4 linked regions of the Homo sapiens genome follow. The protein of the gene in region 4 interacts with the protein of the main gene of each other region in a pairwise test. Each region holds a gene or a part of one and is shown on either strand. Other genes may lie near its edges.

Evidence for each region. The genes of interacting proteins can lie anywhere in the genome.
Region 1: the proteins of SEMA3B (region 4) and CARD10 interact in binary tests that used the Homo sapiens proteins (3 or more experiments, as listed by UniProt).
Region 2: the proteins of SEMA3B (region 4) and NOTCH2NLC interact in binary tests that used the Homo sapiens proteins (3 or more experiments, as listed by UniProt).
Region 3: the proteins of SEMA3B (region 4) and KRTAP19-5 interact in binary tests that used the Homo sapiens proteins (3 or more experiments, as listed by UniProt).

The regions. Positions count from the first base shown.
Region 1 is NC_000022.11:37,502,416-37,505,915, forward strand, and holds part of CARD10 (caspase recruitment domain-containing protein 10), read right to left. Parts: intron 2,355-3,500; coding exon 2,220-2,354; intron 1,887-2,219; coding exon 1,771-1,886; intron 799-1,770; coding exon 770-798; intron 311-769; coding exon 187-310; intron 1-186. UniProt on the Homo sapiens protein: Scaffold protein that plays an important role in mediating the activation of NF-kappa-B via BCL10 or EGFR.
Region 2 is NC_000001.11:149,463,621-149,467,120, forward strand, and holds part of NOTCH2NLC (notch homolog 2 N-terminal-like protein C), read left to right. Parts: coding exon 1-206; intron 207-456; coding exon 457-533; 3' UTR 534-3,500. UniProt on the Homo sapiens protein: Human-specific protein that promotes neural progenitor proliferation and evolutionary expansion of the brain neocortex by regulating the Notch signaling pathway.
Region 3 is NC_000021.9:30,501,157-30,503,503, reverse strand, and holds KRTAP19-5 (keratin-associated protein 19-5), read left to right. Parts: upstream 1-1,362; 5' UTR 1,363-1,413; coding exon 1,414-1,632; 3' UTR 1,633-1,847; downstream 1,848-2,347. UniProt on the Homo sapiens protein: In the hair cortex, hair keratin intermediate filaments are embedded in an interfilamentous matrix, consisting of hair keratin-associated proteins (KRTAP), which are essential for the formation of a rigid and resistant hair shaft through their extensive disulfide bond cross-linking with abundant cysteine residues of hair keratins.
Region 4 is NC_000003.12:50,268,020-50,271,946, forward strand, and holds the start of SEMA3B (semaphorin-3B isoform 1 precursor), read left to right. Parts: upstream 1-1,127; 5' UTR 1,128-1,221; coding exon 1,222-1,330; intron 1,331-2,107; coding exon 2,108-2,265; intron 2,266-2,413; coding exon 2,414-2,476; intron 2,477-2,870; coding exon 2,871-2,990; intron 2,991-3,068; coding exon 3,069-3,162; intron 3,163-3,341; coding exon 3,342-3,461; intron 3,462-3,927. UniProt on the Homo sapiens protein: Inhibits axonal extension by providing local signals to specify territories inaccessible for growing axons.

The DNA.
Region 1 (3,500 bases), on a different chromosome or scaffold from region 4:
AGCCCAAGTCACAGGGACGATCAAGAGCGGCAGCAGGATTGGAATCCAAGGGCTGCCAGTGTCTACAGATCTTAATCTTCCAATAGTTGCATAAAACAGGGGCGAGGCAATTGCTCCTCCCACCTCACTCCTGTTCCCCTCTCAAGCAATCACCCCAGCTCCACCCACTGCAGGCAGCTACAGTACCTGTTGAGGAAGTCCAGGCCACAGCCCCGAGCCAGGAGGCCTTCCGGCTTTCCCAAAGGCCACACGCTGTCAGAGGATGAGGACGAAGAGAGGCCAGGGGACCAGGGCTTAAGTGTCACACTCCCTGGGGAAAAAGAATGAGGTTCAGGGATCTGGCACTGGGAAACAGGGATGGCCAGGGTCCATGACAGGGACTGACCCCCCTCCAGCCCAGAGAGGCCTTGGCAGGTTTGAGGCCCCAGGAGCACATCAGACCCACTGGGCTCAGAGATAGGTCAGGGCCCACCAGGCTGACCCCGCAGTTTCCCAGAAGAGGGTGAAAGGTGGCCCAGAACTGAAGAGCCTCGTACATCACAGCCGGGAACAGGAGTGAGGCCCAGGACTGGGCTCGGGGTGAGAGGCTGGAACCAAAGTCCCCAGGGTCCTCCCAAGCACAACCTTCCTGCCTGGCAGGGGCCACGGCGGGGCTTCAGGGAAGGGGATGCAGGCCAAAGGTAGCGCAGGTGGTGCAGGCTTCAGGTGGGCTGCAAAGCCACCTCCCCCGACCAGAGGAGCCCTCCCCACGGAACTCAAGGGCTGTTACCTGTGATGTCTGACATGCTGCTGAAGGATCTGGGCAGAGAGAGGGCAGGGAGGGGGCAGGAGGTGAGGCACAGTGGGCACTCTGCCCCGCTCCCTCCTCCTGCCCCCACACCAGATAAATGTCTCACAGCCCCCAAGCAAATGCAGGCTAGACTCAAGGCAGGGTCCCAGGTACAGGGCACCCATGCCACCTGGCTCCCCTAAACTCCCAGGGTAAGAAGTTAATGTCCTGGCCTCTGTCCAATGTTGTTCCACCTACAATGCCCTGGCATGCCCTTCAAAGCCAGCTCTTTCAATGCCACCTCCTCCTGGAAGCCACCCCTGATCTCTCACCCCTCACCTCACCCTCACTTGCCACCTTTGTGGTTTGTGACTCCCAGGTACGCCTCCTAAATTAAACCATGACCTCCTCATCAGACACCTCCTTGGGACAGATTTACGCAGATCAAGGCCATACTGACCACAGCCTCCCAGGGCCCAGCCTCTCACCAGTAAAGGAATAAATCAAGGGCTGCTTACAGGGGAAAAGCAGTGACAAGGATCGCGCCCCAGGAGGCAGGCTATCTCCCGCCCTTGGTCTTGCCACCAGAGGGTGCGCCTTGGTTTTTCTGGTCCCTATTTGCTGCTGATGCCCAAACCTGGGGCCTGGCTTTCTTGCCGGAGGTCCCTGATACCTTGAAACATTCTCCACGCCCCCTAGTCCTGAACCATCAAGCTTCTCCTTGGGTATAGGATCTTCAAGGCTTGACCCCCAGTGACCCTCCTGCCAGGATGCTTGGCTAGGACTGAGTTCGCTCTGCCCATCGGCCTTATCTTAAGCCTGACCTTGGTCGCCCCTGTGACTCACAGGACCTGGGTTTCCAGAGCTCCAGCCATCTGAGGGCAATAAAGGGAAGTGACTGCCTGGACCTGACTTTGGCATTGCAGATTCTGGGAGGTGGCTGTTCGGGAAACGGCAGCCCCACCTCCCTGGGTGTCTACTGCTATCCCCAGCCATCTCACCTCTTAGGGGGTGCGGGGTCTTCCTCACGCTGCCGGCGGAGGATGGAGCCGGCACTGGGGGGGAAGGGCAGGATGGAGAGCCGATTGATCTCCTTTTCACTGTCTGTGGCTTCCTCCTGCAATGCCATGACAGGGCCTGGGTCACCCCCACTGCCCAGCACCATCCCAGTCCTCAGCACACCTGGTTTGTGCCCATTCCACAAATGAGAAGTAGGGCCCAGAGCAGAAGAGCGGGCTCTGCAAGATTATAGTGTGCGGGTGGCTCCCCACGCCTCCTGGCACCTATGCCTGGCAAGGAAATGGTTCTGGGTGAGCTTCAGTAAAGTACTTGGCCTCCCTGCGCCTCAGTGTCCTCACCTGTGAAATGGATCCTTCAGAAAGCACTCTCCACATTAGTAATAATGCTATAGCAGTGTCCCCCCTTATTTGGGATGGGGCAGTTGTCTTACCGAGTTGTGAGGCTCAGGTCCCCCCATGACAGCTGCCTCCCCAGTTGCTTCTGGGCCTCCCAGAGGGGAGGGGAACTCGCTCAGGCTCCAAGTGCTGCTGAGGTTGGAGCACAGGGAATGGGAGGAGGCACAGGCCTGGAAGAGGGAGAGGAGAGGAAGGAGGTGAGCAGTGCTAGGCCCACGTCAACCACAGTCCTTTACTGAGCACCTGCCATGTGCCAGCACAGGGACAGATCCCTGTCCTCAGGGAGCTCACAGCCTAGAATGGGAGATAAACTGTAAACCAGCAGACATGTGAACAAAATAGCCCCAAGCTGAGACAATAGCAGAAGGAAGGTGCCCAGGGCATGGAAAACACACAAAGACCCCACCCAGCCTGGGAGTCCAAGTACTCTCCAAAGAAACTGTGGTTTGAACTGAGAACTCAAGGGTATAGAGGCGCTAAGTAGGTCAAGCTGGGATGGTCCAGGCAGATCAACAGCATGTGCAAAGGCCCTGAGGCAGGACTGTGATGCATTCCAGTTGAAAGACTGGAACCCACAGAACCAGGCGAGAGGACAAGAGGAACCCCACCCGCAGGGCCTCTTGGCCATGAAAAGGGACTCTGTCTTTACCAAACAGCAAAAAAGCCACTGGGGGTTAAAAAAAAAAAAAAGTCTTGGATTAATGCTGACTTTTCCTATATTCCTCCAGGCCCCAGTGCTTCAAACACCAGGCCTGCGGAGCTCACTGTCAGGCAACTCAAAATAAGAAAACGCAGGCTGGGCGTTCGCACCTCTAATCCCAGCACTTTGGGAGGCTGAGGCAGGAGGATCCCTTGAGGTCAGGAGTTTGAAACCAGCCTGGCCAACATGGTGAAACCCCCATCCCTACTGAAAATACAAAAAAAAACTTAGCTGGGTATGGTGGCAGGCACCTGTAGTCCCAGCTACTAGGGAGGCTAAGGCACGAGAATAACTTGAACCTGGGATCCAGCCTGGGTGATACAGCAAGATTCTGTCTCAAAAAAAAAAAAAAAAGGAAAAAGCAGAGCTCCCGGCAGCAGCCTGAGGACCACGATCCAATTTACAGTGGGTCTGGGACTCCAGCTCCAGTGCTAGCTGGCTGTGTGGCCTTGGGCAAGCCCCTCACCCTCTCTGGGCCCTGTGCGATGAGAGGATTAGACCAGCTGGTCTCTGAGGGATGCTTAGGCCCATGTTAGTCCTGACTAGCTGGTCTCTGAGGCCCAGGTTTTGCATTCTAACATGCACACAGGCACTCAGGCAGCCAGCCTTCCCCAGT
Region 2 (3,500 bases), on a different chromosome or scaffold from region 4:
TGTCAATGAGTGTGACATTCCAGGACACTGCCAGCATGGTGGCACCTGCCTCAACCTGCCTGGTTCCTACCAGTGCCAGTGCCTTCAGGGCTTCACAGGCCAGTACTGTGACAGCCTGTATGTGCCCTGTGCACCCTCGCCTTGTGTCAATGGAGGCACCTGTCGGCAGACTGGTGACTTCACTTTTGAGTGCAACTGCCTTCCAGGTAAGGAGCTCCCTAGTGTCCCAGGATTAGGGGACAAACCCCTAGCACAGGAGGTAGTGGGTGTGGCTCAATTGCTTTTTTTAGGAAGCGCAAGGAAAAAGGGAAGTGAGAATTTTGTGTGGGGTGGGTTGCTAGTGAGGGAGGAGTTTTATGGGCCCACTGTGGTCCATAAACTGAGCAGGGGATAATTTAGCATGTCAGGGTTTATGATGATGAGTGGCTAGAAAATTGTTTATTGTCCCTTTTGTAGAAACAGTGAGAAGAGGAACAGAGCTCTGGGAAAGAGACAGGGAAGTCTGGAATGGAAAAGAACACGATGAGAATTAGACACTGGAAAATATGTATGTGTGGTTAATAAAGTGCTTTAAACTGAATTGACATTAACAGTAGGTGATCAACTTTACTATGTGCTTGTGCTTTTGCTTTTGATGGAGTAATTCATTGTTTTCTTATCCACCTAAATGCACCCAGCTGCCCTTGATTTTCTCTGGGCTACTGGCCTTCACAACCCTCTCCCATGTACCCTCTCTGACTTTGGGGTAACCCTCCCCTAACTTAAAGCTAGAGAATTCTGAAACTGAGGAGGGGATCCTCTGTTAATCAGTGAGCACTTTTTGATGAGCTGATAGATGATATATGAGAGACTATGCGTGGCACAATACTTTGTTACACTCTTCACTGATACAAGTGTTCTAGAGTGCACACACAACCCAAAGATAGAAATAAAAAGAGGAGCAGTGTCGGGGAGCTTGGGGCCTGGTGTTCCATGGAGAGGGAGAAAGGAACAAGCTTGGCCAATTCATTCAACTCCTTATAAAAATGATGAGGAGGCTGAAAACCAAGAATTTTGATTGGGAACAGAATACAAGCAGCTGAAGCAGATGAATTACTAAGCAACAAAGATCCTGTTTTTATACAAATATCCTTAGTACAAAAACAAAAGAAGGAAAACTGTAGGGGGGAGTAATGTGCTAAGTAAGCAGAATTGCCTCCAAAAGAAGTTGTTCTAGTTACTCTTTCAGAGTGGGAATCTTAGATTCTGGTATTGTGGATATGGTTCACATATAATGGGATTGTGTGTTTTATTTTGGAGGAATTAAAGGTCATAGTTTGGTCCTCAGTATAAAATCAACTGGTAATTTGTTCATTTCATTTGGTAAAAATGTATTGACTGCCTGCTATGTTCTAGGCACCATGCTGTGTATTTGGAATACAGCTATACAAAGCATTGTCACATAATTGAAATGAAAATTTTATATTATTTAAGTCACAAGAACAAGCTATTTAATTATATTACTTTTAGTTTCTCTTTTAATAAAGAATAGATAATGCTATCATTCTAGATACTAAATAAGTATTTTCTTAACATAATATTACTATCCACTTTATCTTGTAGAAGAAATAACTAAAATACATCTGTCTTCACTCCTGTATTTGTTTGCATTTTAAGGATTAAAGACAGAAATAGAAATGTAAACAACTTTATTTTGAAAATATTTCAACACTGCAAATATCTCTGGGTCTGATATTCTAGTAATCTAATTGGCTAGTAATTGATGTTAGTGTGATTTATTGTTGAAGGCTAAATGTGTTTTTCAGTTTCAAGAAAATTGCTTTTAATAATTGCCTAGAACAAGAGGTTGATTTGGCAGCAAGATGTTGACGGGAAGTTAGAGAAGTCAATAAAGGAAGTTTTTAGCTGAGAGAGAGTGATTATTCACTCCCATAGCCTCTGCATTGTTATCCATTAGCCACGATAAGAACCTTAGGGAATTCTGAGAGTGTGTCCAGGAAAGGATCTGTCAAACTAGAATAGTATCTCCTCCTTGAGAAAGGAAATAACCAAGGATTCCGCAGCTGAGAGGCTGCCAGGGCTAGTGAAATAGAGTAAGGAAATCTTGGCTGTCTCTTATTCTCTGGTTGTAGTTTAACGCAAGACACTTATTTACTCACTGATGGTGTGTGTGTGTGTGGGAGGGGAGATTAGCATGAGGGGTGGGAATGGGGAGATTTGATGAAGAGAAAACTAACATTTTTTTGGTGACTCAGGAACTGTGCCAGGTACTTCCATGCTTATTAGCTCAATTACACAAAAATCTTGGGACCAGGTATTATTTTTCAAGTCTTCCCACATGAAGTAACTGAAGTTTGGAGATGTTAAGTGATTCACCCAAAGTTGTACAGCTAATATGTGGTTAGGCTGGGTCCTGAAACCGAGGCAGTTTATTTTCAAAGCCTTTGCTTTGTGCATCTTACTGCGCCACATTGCACTGCACATCTGCTTCCTGAAAGCACTTTGTAGGTGTGTAAAACTTTTCGTTAAATGCTTTAAGCTGTTTGGGTTAAAAATATATGTTCATGTTATAAGAAAACCAAGACACTCCTAATTATAATCAAATAGTACTTGTTACATATCAATATGTGTGTGTGTGTGTGTGTGTGTGTGTGTGGTATATATATATATATCGCATTGTGCAGATGTTTAAAAGTAGTTACATAGACTAGTTCTTGCTTTTCAGGGTCCCATAATCTAAACCAGATGACTTCAGCTTTGGATAAATATATAGAAGGAAATTTAAAGAGAATTCAAAACAATAGATGATGCAGTGACACTGTGAATAAATGTTATTTATACAGTTTGTAAGATTTCATGCTCATTGTTCGTATGTCCCAGGTGGAGTTCAGAAAATATTCAGTTCATTTCCACAAAGGGAAATAGTGCCTAGAGATGGTTTTCTTTTAAAAAGTCCTTTTCATAATGCAGTGCCCTTCCTTCCATTGCCCTTCATTCCATTGCTTCCCATGCTTGTCAAGAGACTAAAATGTTACTTATAGTAATAGTCACTATCTCAATGTAAATAGCACCCTTATTTGATGAGAATTATTATTTCAGTTCTAAAAATGGGGAAACAAAGTCAGCAGGAGGCAAAGTAGCTTGTTAAAGTATTCTGCAACTTTCAAATGGTTGCTTCCACTGCATTTCACGTCTTGGCACTTCTAATTGAGGGTTACTCTAACCACCCTATTTAAAATTGTAACTGTCCCCCACCCCCTTAATTACTAACCCTGGTCTACTTTTTGTTTTCTTTTTCTGTAACTCTTATCTTCTTACTATATAATTTATACTATATAATTTACTTCATTATGTCTATTGTTTATTGTCTGTCTTTTCCAAATTCTACTGCCTCTTACCCTCTCCAGAATGAAAACTAGTATCTTTGTTTTTGTTTACTGATGTAACCCAAACACCTACAAACAGTGCCCAGTATATACTAGGCCCGCAAATATATATTG
Region 3 (2,347 bases), on a different chromosome or scaffold from region 4:
AATGAGTACAGGATAGACATAGAAGAACATCAGAATCACGCCTGTAATCCTAGCACTTTGCGGGGCCGAGGCGGGCAGATCACGAGATCAGGAGATCAAGACCATTCTGGCTAACATGGTGAAACCCCGTCTGTACTAAAAATCCAAAAAAAATAGCCAGGCGTGGTGGCGGGCGCCTGTAGTCCCAGCTACTGGGGAGGTTGAGGCAGGAGAATGGCGTGAACCCGGGAGGCGGAGCTTGTAGTAAGCCGAGATGGTGCCACTGCACTCCAGACTGGGCGACAGAGTGAGACTCCGTCTCAAAAAACAAACAAACAAAAAAATCAGGAAAGATGTTACAGTGAATACAAAGAGGAGATAGAAAAAAAAAAGCGTTGAGATAAGTCGATGGAAGACAGAGGGAATGTATGCAATAAACTTCTACCTGGCTGTTTCTATAGACATTAAGAAAATGGGAAGAAGAATAAAAGCTGAAATGAGAAAGGAAATAGAGGTCATATATACACTACTGAAAAATGATAAAGAAAGAAAGTAATTGACTAGAATGTGCAAAACAGAGGCAGATGCAATCTGCAATTTTACCAGGACTTTGAATAAAACCAATTATAAAGGAGAGTTTTAGGACTTGAATGGAAAACTAAAGTGCTACTCTGATAAGTCTGCGTAGGAGATGGATTTTGTGCCCTCAATTTCTGAAATTAATTCTTATGTATTTTGCAACCAAAAGGTTCTGAAGCTGGTGTGCAAAGTCAAAAATAGTATAAAAGTTATTGTGAATAAAATGCTAAAAATCAGCATACACTCTCTTTTTTTGAGTCCTTTGGCGATTGTACACAGCAGGGCATTAAAATCATTTTGATTTCAAATGTTTTCCTGTATTGTGCATATAGGCACTTTCTGAAGACCTCACCTTGATAAATAAGTTTGCTTTTTAAAACTATAGATTTAACATCTGTAAATTGAAAAAACAGCTGTAAATTTAGTTGAATATGAAGTTATCAGTTTGGAAGATGACGGACAAAGGAAATTATTCATTATAAAAGGAATACCATAAAGTGTAGATGATGTAATACACCTGGTAATAGGCAATTCTGTTGAGCATTTGGAATGTGCATATTTTGAACAGTAAGCCCTTTCTTTTCATAAAAGCAAAGCAGTAAGTTCAATCGTGTCCTGAATAAGACATTAAGTAAGCTGAAATATTTTAATGAGAATGAGGGCATCTCCCTACATCAGAAGACAATAGATAAATGAGTTGTAACATCAAACGTAATACAAATAACTATAGCAAAGGAGGGTATACAGATGACTCATCACACGCTCTGACCAGGGTATATAAGCCTCCTACACATGCTGGTGTTCACACTCAGGATCTTGCCTTGAGCAGCATACCAACTCACCACTCCTGACACCATGAACTACTACGGCAACTACTATGGAGGCCTGGGCTACGGCTACGGAGGCTTCGATGACCTGGGCTATGGCTATGGCTGTGGATGTGGCAGCTTCCGCAGACTGGGCTATGGCGGTGGCTACGGAGGCTACGGATACGGCTCTGGCTTCGGAGGCTATGGATACCGCAGCTGCCGTCCATCATGCTATGGAGGATATGGATTCTCTGGATTTTATTGAAATCCTTCCCTGACAACCTAACATGAGGGGACATAAGAAGATCACCCAAACCTGACTGCAATAACAAACAAACGAGGTCACCCTGGATCAAGCCAAGATCAAGAGCAGTTAGCATCTAAGAGGTTTAAGAATACCTATCATTCCATAATTCTTTGCTTTATGTCTCTGGATGTGTCTTACTTGTACCTTTATAACTGTGGGGTTTCTCTGTTCCTTTTAGAATAAATTATGCTAACTGAAAGCAAATACACGACTTTTGTTTTTTGCTTGACTCAAAATGGCAAAGTGGTTATTTGTAATTATATCCAGTGAAAAAAGAACAAACTACTATACATATAGAAGTATATTATATATAACAAAATAATTTTGTATATACATGCACCTATCTATATAGCTGTATGTATGTGTGTGCATGTATATATTCACATTCAAAGGTCACAGTTGACCCTTGAATAATGTAGGGGTTAGCAGTACTGATTCCCCCATGCAGTTGAAAATCCACATATAACTTTTGACTCTCCAGAAACCTAACTACTGGTAGCCGACTGTTGACTGGAAGCCTCACTGATAACATAAACAGTTGATTAACACATACTTTGTGTTTTATATGCATTATATACTGTATTCTTACAATAAAGTAAATAAGAGAAAAGAAAATGTTATGAAAATAATAAGGAAGAGAATTTATATTTACTGTTTGTTAAGTGGAAGCGAC
Region 4 (3,927 bases):
GCTCCTAGAGTGAAGGGGCTCAAAGATGGGGAAGAACTCAAGGGGTGAGAGAAGTGAAGGGAGAGGCTCAGAGAGGCTGTGGAGGCGTTGAGAGGGAAGGCCAGCTCAGCGAGGCCAGGAGGCTGGGGTGCAAATGAAGGGCTGCCTCACCTTGCCCCTCTTTGATTCCTCAGGGGTGTGGAGAGAGAGCCCTCAAGCTCAAATGCAGAGGCTGCTTCAGCTGGGTTGGGAGCAGTCCCCAAGTCAGAGGCTGAGGCTTCTGCCCAGGTCTTGGGTCTCCTGGGTAGCACTTCTCCCTCTGAGGAATGGAGTGATTGATGCTGCAGTTGGATTTGCTCACTTGCATGCCCAGAGACATGTCTATTCTTATGGGTGCACACGTTTGCACATGCACAAATGTGCAACACATCTGTGTGCAAAATATGCACATATCACACATATGTACTGCATGGATTGCACAGTGCCACATGTGTGTGCACACCAACCCATATCCACACATGTGCAATATGACACACTATATATTTGCACATAGATGTGCACACACATGCACATACACACTACACACATGCGCACATCACAAGGGGACACTCGGAAACACATTCACAGGCACCCACACCCTTGGCTCCAGCCTCAAAAGTGTCTCTGTGTTTTTCTGCGGGACTGTGGGGACACTGCCACCTCCAGAGGCCTGACCCCCTCCTGTCACTCTCACTCTTTTGACTGGCTTGTTTTGCTCATTGCACTTGGCACCCTCTGCATCCATCTGATTCCTTGTTGGCACTCTGTCCCCTTTCACATGGGGACCTTGTCTATGTCTCCCAGTATCCCTCCTCCCAGGTCTAGGCTGGCATGAAGTGGGTGGCACATTGTGAATTAATGTCTGTGAGTGTGTATACAAGAGAGGAGATTACTGGGAAGGGTGACGTGGTGAGGCGGGCTTGCCAGTGCAGGGTGACCCTGAGGGTGTGCCCAGTGGCGTGGGTGTGTCTGTGATTGTGGCCAGGCGGGGCACCCTCGGAGGGGAGGGTTCGGAAGTGGAATGCGACCCCCCAGCCTCTTTCCCCTAGGGGCTGTAATCTGATCCCTGGGGACTCCCCCCCTAGCCTCCCGCCCTCGCCCTCACTGCTGACTCCTCTTCCAGATCCTGGGGCAGAGTCCAGGGCAGCTCAAGGCTCCTCCACACACACACCCGCTGAACCCTGAGCACCCTGAGCTGCTGAGATGGGGCGGGCCGGGGCTGCCGCCGTGATCCCGGGCCTGGCCCTGCTCTGGGCAGTGGGGCTGGGGAGTGCCGCCCCCAGCCCCCCACGCCTTCGGCTCTCCTTCCAAGGTAGGTGCACCTGGCAGGCGGGAGGGCCCAGCTTGAGGTGGGCAGGAAAGGGTCCCCGTATGGCCAGGGGGCTCTGTGTTGGCTGTTGCCCCATGTGCGTGCCTGTCACCAGACTCTGGTAGGATTAGTGGGCACTCTCAGGCCACCTCCAGTTAACCCTGTCCGGGCCTCAGCCCCCAGCCTCTGCCCACATTCTCTTCGTGCTTTCTCAGGAAGACCCCTCCTGTCCCCACAGCAACAGACCTTGTCTCTGTTCCGTTCAGTACCCCCAACAAGGCGATACTCCTTCAGCAGAGCAACAGGGAAGTCAGAGCCCCCTTCTCATGCCTCCTGTATAGGAGGGTGGCCCCTGGGCAGTGGCAGTGAATAGGCAGTTCTGCTGAGCTCAGGCTGGTGGTGGAGTGGCAGGAAAGGAACTCTCAGCCTGACTTTTGGGAGTTGGGGTTCTGGCCATCCCTGCATGCCAGTCTCCCCCAGGACTCTGGTGTCCATAAGCCTTGCCTCCCAGTGCGCCCGCCTGGAGACACCACCTGTCTGAGCATGCCCAAGTTCAACCTGCCTTCCTCTTCCTGGGGGGATGTACCACCTACCCTGGCAGCTCCACACGTGCACCTGGGTGGGCTTGGGTTTGCGTGTGTAAACTCACACACATGTAAACTCACATGTGTACAGGCCAGGTCCTAATGGCAACCTTGGCCGATAGAGTCACCACCAGGCAGGACCTGGGGGAGGCTTCCAGCATGGCTGGCGAGTCATCAGCAGTGTCCTGCCCTGCAGAGCTCCAGGCCTGGCATGGTCTCCAGACTTTCAGCCTGGAGCGAACCTGCTGCTACCAGGCCTTGCTGGTGGATGAGGAGCGTGGACGCCTGTTTGTGGGTGCCGAGAACCATGTGGCCTCCCTCAACCTGGACAACATCAGCAAGCGGGCCAAGAAGGTGCCAGGGACTCCCAACCCCAGCACTCCCCAGGGAAGGAGCCCTGGGACCCCACTCCAGCCTGGAGAGACCCAGAGGAATGGCTCCCTGAGGTAGAGAATATCCCAAGTTCCTGACCTGTGTCCCCTCTCCCCCAACCTCCCGATAGCTGGCCTGGCCGGCCCCTGTGGAATGGCGAGAGGAGTGCAACTGGGCAGGGAAGGACATTGGTGTGAGTGCCAGCTGCCCGGGCCGGGAGTGGGGAGGGTCAGCCCCTCACCCCAGAGACAGGGCAGGGCTAAAACAGAGGCCTGCCTGTTCTGGCTGGGATGAGGGCAGGGAGGTCGAGGTGGCTGAGGTCTGGGGGTGGTGAGTCAGGGTGGGGGCTCGTGTAATTCTTCTGGGGTGCCTCTGAGTCATGGGAGGCTTTGCAGGCCTGTGCTTCCCCAGACACCCACCCTCGTGAGGCCTGGGCTGGTCAGCAAGGGCCCCCAGGTCCCTGTAGCCCATGTTAGTACTTGCCTGGGCTGATGCCGAAGAGAGGGAGGGGTGAGGATGCCACTGGTGAGCTGGGACCTCTTAAGGCTACGTCCCTGGGGGAAGCCTCACACCTCCAACCCTACTAGACTGAGTGCATGAACTTCGTGAAGTTGCTGCATGCCTACAACCGCACCCATTTGCTGGCCTGTGGCACGGGAGCCTTCCACCCAACCTGTGCCTTTGTGGAAGTGGGCCACCGGGCAGAGGTAAGGCCGGATCTAGGCAGGGAGGGAGGTCAGGAGGGTAAGAAGGGCCTGGTAGTCACAACTTGCCACACCTCCCAGGAGCCCGTCCTCCGGCTGGACCCAGGAAGGATAGAGGATGGCAAGGGGAAGAGTCCTTATGACCCCAGGCATCGGGCTGCCTCCGTGCTGGTGGGTGAGTCCAAGGGCTAAGGCCCCAAGAGAACCCCTTAGAAACTCTAGAACCTCACAAAGTCCCAAGACCCCCAAGAGCTCCAGGGAATCCCCCATAACCTCACTCACTCCCAGAGCTCCCCAGGCCCTCCTGCCCCAAGAGCCCTCCATTTGCCTGAGTGGCCCTTGCTCTGTCTGCAGGGGAGGAGCTATACTCAGGGGTGGCAGCAGACCTCATGGGACGAGACTTTACCATCTTTCGCAGCCTAGGGCAACGTCCAAGTCTCCGAACAGAGCCACACGACTCCCGCTGGCTCAATGGTGAGAGGCTGGTGGGGTTGGTGGGTAGAGGTCGTCACCCTCCCACAGGGCAGGTGCCAAGCAAGGCCCATAAAGTAAGTGAGCAGTGGGTGTGGCCAGGTCTTACCAAATACCCTCCTTAATCAGGCACTGGCGTCACAGAGACAGACAAGACAGGTATGACCGTGACCTCTTTGAGTTCACAGATCACATACATGATAAGATCAAGTCCAATGGCCTTGAGGCCAGAGAGAGACAAGGGAGGAAGGGAAAAGGAGACTGGGTGGCTGGAGGGGGTTGGGTAAAGGAAGCCGCTGTGCTGAGGGGAGTATGAGCTAATTCCCAAGCACAAGACAGCTAGCCAGCAAAATTTAGGGATGAGCATTCCAGGCAGAGGGAGCATTCCAGGCAGAGGGAGCAACTAGTGCAAAGGCCTGGATGCAAGAACAAGCAAAGGAATAGACTTGCAGAGCTAGCAATGAAAAGG